Regions from separate parts of the Homo sapiens genome. Here region 2 is linked to region 1. Evidence: fine-mapped QTL for protein levels in blood plasma. A gene starts in region 1. The other region holds a variant in brackets. All regions are shown on one strand. Distances are from middle to middle. Region 1 holds the start of FKBP14 (FKBP prolyl isomerase 14). Region 2 has its middle 38 kb from the start of MTURN.

What was found. PIP is the chance, under the fine-mapping model, that this variant and not a neighbour inherited with it causes the effect. The UK Biobank Pharma Proteomics Project read protein levels with antibody pairs (Olink). The fine-mapping took linkage between variants from a reference panel, not from the people measured, so its PIPs are less certain.
Region 2: its variant is fine-mapped to the plasma level of the FKBP14 protein (UK Biobank, PIP above 0.99).

The regions. Positions count from the first base shown.
Region 1 is chr7:30,025,272-30,028,184 of GRCh38, reverse strand. It overlaps FKBP14 (FKBP prolyl isomerase 14), which reads left to right and starts at 1,483. Exons shown (of 4, transcript NM_017946.4): 1 at 1,483-1,873. The coding sequence starts at 1,677. It overlaps FKBP14-AS1 (FKBP14 antisense RNA 1), which reads right to left. Exons shown (of 3, transcript NR_187577.1): 3 at 944-2,798. RefSeq lists an enhancer at 1,078-1,227.
Region 2 is chr7:30,095,305-30,098,217 of GRCh38, reverse strand. It overlaps a transcript of PLEKHA8 not described here. Among named protein-coding and RNA genes, the nearest start is that of MTURN, 38 kb to the left of the region's middle. The variant C/G (reference allele first, on the strand shown) is at 1,643.

The sequences.
Region 1 (2,913 bases):
TGGTGCCCGCCGTTTGAGGGTCTACGTGACCTCTCACGATACCTCCTGAGTTCTAGTCCCTATTCTTGTTCCAAAGCTGCCTAATTGATCTCACACACTTGAGGTAACCAATAACAGGGCGTAAAGAGATTATTGGAATTTCAGGGTAGAATACTATGAGGCCAGTGTAAACAGATGTTGTCCAGACTCTAAGGTCTCACTATGGAAGTGTTGATCTACTGACCCGGAGCACTGACATCACCTAAGAGCTTGTTAGAAATGCAGAATCTTGCACCCACCCCAGACCTCCAGATCAAAATCTGCATTTTAAACAAGATCTTCAGGGGGATTCCTATGCACATAGAGTGCGGATATGCACTGTGTTAAGGTTATTAGACCAGAAAAAATGTTAACTACAGATTAAGTGGAAAGAGGAGGTGAGAAAAGACTACAATACGATTTAAATCGCTTTAAGTATATGTCACAGAAGCATGCACCAAAATATTAAGAGGATTGTTTGCGGCTGGTGGTGGTATCGGCGAGCTTTCTTTTTCTTTAAAGTTGCCTGATTTAGTAAATAAAAATGCAAAACCATTATTCGTTATGTATCTGAAATTCCAACTTGATTCGACTCCCCAATATTATCTGGAAATCTTACTTTAGTGCTTTCCAATTTCTTCCAAAATGACTTCAATGAACATGCATTACTTTTGAACTTAGGCAAAAAATGTAAAACTAGAAAATGTAAACTACGATGAGGCTGTGTAATTCGTAACCATGATTACCATTTCTTCTTTAAAGCGGAAGTCTGCAAGTCGAAACTCATTATTTACCCTGTAAGGTAACTTAAGGGATAAATTATTAGCAGCCATAACATGACGTGGTGCTGTGGAATGAATCAGACCTGGTTTGAAGGCAGAGCTCATTTGCTTCGGGGCCAAACAACCTTAAGCAGGACAGTTAATATCTCCTGGTGTAAATTTACTTCTCTTTTAAATGGGAAAAAAGAACCTGCCTTACTGGGTGTAGTGAGGTTCATGCAACGGGAACGCGCTTTGTGAACCCTCAAGCAGTATGTCAGTCTTTACAGTTTATAAGCAATAGCAAAATCCTAGGATTGTGGCATCTTGGGGGGCCGCTCTCCAACGGCGAGAGTAAACGAGTCTTTCCTGGAACCCCGAAGATTTCATAGGGCCCCGGGACTCTTCCTACGTCTCTCAGCAGGGTTCTTCACAGAGATAAATCAGCCGGAGGAGTTTCCGGTTGGCTCTGCGCCCCGCCCCTCTCCCAAAATCCACGCTGGTTGAATGCTGAAATCCACCGGGCTCTAGGACCACAAGGGATGATCCGCCGCTTGGCAGCTGCCCGGCTCTACCGGGCTGTAAATTCCATCGTTGCAGCGTCATTGGCTTGAGAGCTGCCTGAAGGACAGCACCAATAGCCAATGGGAGGCTGCTATTCCCAGGCGGCCGCGTTATAAGAGCCAGTCAGGCCGGCATTTGGGCTTAACTCTTTAAAGGTAGGTTCGTGACCCTTGAGAAAAGAGTTGGTGGTAAATGTGCCACGTCTTCTAAGAAGGGGGAGTCCTGAACTTGTCTGAAGCCCTTGTCCGTAAGCCTTGAACTACGTTCTTAAATCTATGAAGTCGAGGGACCTTTCGCTGCTTTTGTAGGGACTTCTTTCCTTGCTTCAGCAACATGAGGCTTTTCTTGTGGAACGCGGTCTTGACTCTGTTCGTCACTTCTTTGATTGGGGCTTTGATCCCTGAACCAGAAGTGAAAATTGAAGTTCTCCAGAAGCCATTCATCTGCCATCGCAAGACCAAAGGAGGGGATTTGATGTTGGTCCACTATGAAGGCTACTTAGAAAAGGACGGCTCCTTATTTCACTCCACGTAAGTAATTATGCCCCGCAGGTAAAATAGTAATTAAGAATCCACTCACTTATGCCAGCTCTCCAGCAGGAAAGGTGGCCTGTACCTGGTTTTGCCTCTTTTACAAAACCGAAATATCTTATTTCCTTCTTTGGGAAAGGAAATTGTTTAAAGCCAGTTTTATATAGCGAGCGAGGCCTTTGAAGGTCTTGTTGGAAACATGTGGTCTGGAAAAGGCTGTTAATTTTTTTTATTATACAAATTAGAACTAGAATCTTTGAAATATTGCAGAAATATATCTGGGTGTATAATTGGCCAATAAGTAGAAAAAGCCCAAAAGAATTCTCATATCTCAAACTCCATTTCTTAAAGAAAATGACTTGATTCCATTTTTAATGTGGTGTAGGTGATGTTCACCTAAAACTTTTCACAGCGACTTCAAAAGCAAACTACACTATCACTTATTTGCCTGTTGAAGGATATACTAATGCCGTTTCACTGACCTACTTCTTTTGTTCTGACGAATGGTATTTTGGTCAAGGCACAGGACCATGATTTCAGTCATTTGCTTCTTTCTAGAGAGTCAGACTTCATTGATGAGGTGGGTGTGGTTTTGGAAGTCTAGGTGAAGGATTTTCAGGTGGTTACACTATCATTTCTGTTCTATAAACGAAGAAATTGGAACATGGAAATGGTTTACAGCCTAATGATTTTCAATTAGGCATCGGTTCCATTCATTCCATTATGACAGTATTTAGTGAGCATTTCCTTGATGTTAAGCCATGTTCTGGGTGCTAGGAAGATTCAGAAATTTTGGCTTCTAATCATCTTCATCTATTCATTAGTCTGTCCATCTATCAAACTCTTATTGAATGGTCACAAGTCAGGTCCTGGAGACGCAAAGATGGCTAGAAGCAGGTTCTTGTCCTCTAACAGTATACACCATCTACAGGTGGGAGAAAGACAAGTAAATAATGCAATGATATAGGGTACAGAATATTCAAAGTGCTAGCAAAGCGTAACTGGGCCTGAAGTAGTTAGGCTCCATGGGGTGGGGAAAG
Region 2 (2,913 bases), 70 kb before region 1:
CACATGGCCGGGTACTCCTCTGAGACAAAACTTCCAGAGGAACGATCAGGCAGCAGCGTTTGCGGTTCACCAATATCTGCAGTTCTGCAGCCACCGCTGCTGATACCCAGGCAAACAGGGTCTGGAGTGGACCTCCAGCAAACTCCAACAGACCTGCAGCTGAGGGTCCTGACTGTTAGAAGGAAAACTAACAAACAGAAAGGACATCCACACCAAAAATCCATCTGTACGTCACCATCATCAAAGACCAAAGGTAGATAAAACCACAAAGATGGGGAAAAAACAGAGCAGAAAAACCAGAAACTCTAAAAGTCAGAGCGCCTCTCCTCCTCCAAAGGAACGCAGCTCCTCACCAGCAACGGAACAAAGCTGGACAGAGAATGACTTTGACGAGTTGAGAGAAGAATGCTTCAGAAGATCAAACTACTCCAAGCTAAAGGAAGAAGTTCGAACCAATGGCAAAGAAGTTAAAACCTTGCAAAAAAATTAGACAAACGGCTAACTAGAATAATCAATGCAGAGAAGTCCTTAAAGGACCTGATGGAGCTGAAAACCACGGCACGAGAACTATGTGACGAATGCACAAGCCTCAGTAGCCAACGTGATCAACTGGAAGAAAGGGTATCAGCAATGGAAGACGAAATGAATGAAATGAAGCGAGAAGAGAAGGTTAGAGAAAAAAGAATAAAAAGAAACGAACAAAGCCTCCAAGAAATATGGGACTATGTAAAAAGACCAAATCTACGTCTGATTGGTGTACCTGAAAGTGATGGGGAGAATGGAACCAAGCTGGAAAACACTCTGCAGGATATTATCTAGGAGAACTTCCCCAATCTAGCAAGGCAGGCCAACATTCAAATTCAGGAAATACAGAGAACGCCACAAAGAGACTCCTCAAGAAGAGCAATTCCAAGACACATAATTATCAGATTCACCAAAGTTGAAATGAAGGAAAAAATGTTAAGGGCAGCCAGAGAGAAAGATCGGGATACCCACAAAGGGAAGTTCATCAGACTAACAGCTGATCTCTCGGCAGTAACTCTACAAGCCAGAAGAGAGTGGGGGCCGATATTCAACATTCTTAAAGAAAAGAATTTTCAACCCAGAATTTCATATCCAGCCAAACTAAGATTCATAAGTGAAGGAGAAATAAAATACTTTACAGACAAGCAAATGCTGAGAGATTTTGTCACCACCAGGCCTGCCCTAAAAGAGCTCCTGAAGGAAGCACTAAACATGGAAAGGAACAACTGGTACCAGCCACCGGTACCAACATGCCAAACTGTAAAGACCATTAAGGCTAGGAAGAAACTGCATCAACTAACGAGCAAAATAACCAGCTAACATCATAATGACAGGATCAAATTCACACATAACAATATTGACCTTAAGTGTAAATGGGCTAAATGCTCCAATTAAAAGACACAGACTGGTAAATTGGATAAAGAGTCAAGACCCATCAGTGTGCTGTATTCAGGAAACCCATCTCACATGCAGAGACACACAGGCTCAAAATAAAGGGATGGAGGAAGATCTACCAAGCAAATGGAAAACAAAAAAAGGCAGGGGTTGCAATCCTAGTCTCAGATAAAACAGACTTTAAACCAACAAAGATCAAAAGAGACAAAGATGCCCTCTCTCA[C/G]CACTCCTATTCAACGTAGTGTTGGAAGTTCTGGCCAGGGCAATCAGGCAGGAGAAGGAAATAAAGGGCATTCAATTAGGAAAAGAGGAAGTCAAATTGTCCCTGTTTGCAGATGACATGATTGTATATCTAGAAAACCCCATCGTCTCAGCCCAAAATCTCCTTAAGCTGATAAGCAACTTCAGCAAAGTCTCAGGATACAAAATCAATGTGCAAAAATCCCAAGCATTCTTATACATCAATAACAGACAAACAGAGAGCCAAATCATGGTGAACTCCCATTCACAATTGCTTCAAAGAGAATAAAATACCTAGGAATCCAACTTACAAGGGATGTGAAGGACCTCTTCAAGGAGAACCACAAACCACTGCTCAAGGAAATAAAAGAGGATACAAACGAATGGAAGAACATTCCATGCTCATGGGTAGGAAGAATCAATATCGTGAAAATGGCCATACTGCCCAAGGTAATTTATAGATTAAATGCCATCCCCATCAAGCTACCAATGACTTTCTTCACAAAATTGGAAAAAACTACTTTAGACTTCACATGGAACCAAAAAAGAGCCCGCATTGCCAAGTCAATCCTAAGCCAAAAAAACAAAGCTGGAGGCATCACGCTACCTGACTTCAAACTATACTACAAGGCTACAGTAACCAAAACAGCATGGTACTGGTACCAAAACAGAGATATAGATCAATGAAACAGTACAGAGCCCTCAGAAATAATGCCACATATCTACAACTATATGATCTTTGACAAACCTGACAAAAACAAGAAATGGGGAAACGATTCCCTATTTAATAAATGGTGCTGGGAAAACTGGCTAGCCATATGTAGAAAGCTGAAACTGGATCCCTTCCTTACACCTTATACAAAAATTAATTCAAGATGGATTAAAGATTTACATGTTAGACCTAAAACCATAAAAACCCTAGAAGAAAACCTAGGCAATACCATTCAGGACATAGGCATGGGCCATGACTTCATGTCTAAAACACCAAAAGCAATGGCAACAAAAGCCAAAATTGACAAATGGGATCTAATTAAACTAAAGAGCTTCTGCGCAGCAAAGAAACTACCATCAGAGTGAACAGGCAACCTACAGAATGGGAGAAAATTTTTGCAACCTACTCATCTGATAAAGGGCTAATATCCAGAATCTACAATGAACTCAAACAAATTTACAAGAAAAAAACAAACAACCCCATTAAAAAGTGGGTGAAGGATATGAACAGACACTTCCCAAAAGAAGACATTTATGTAGCCA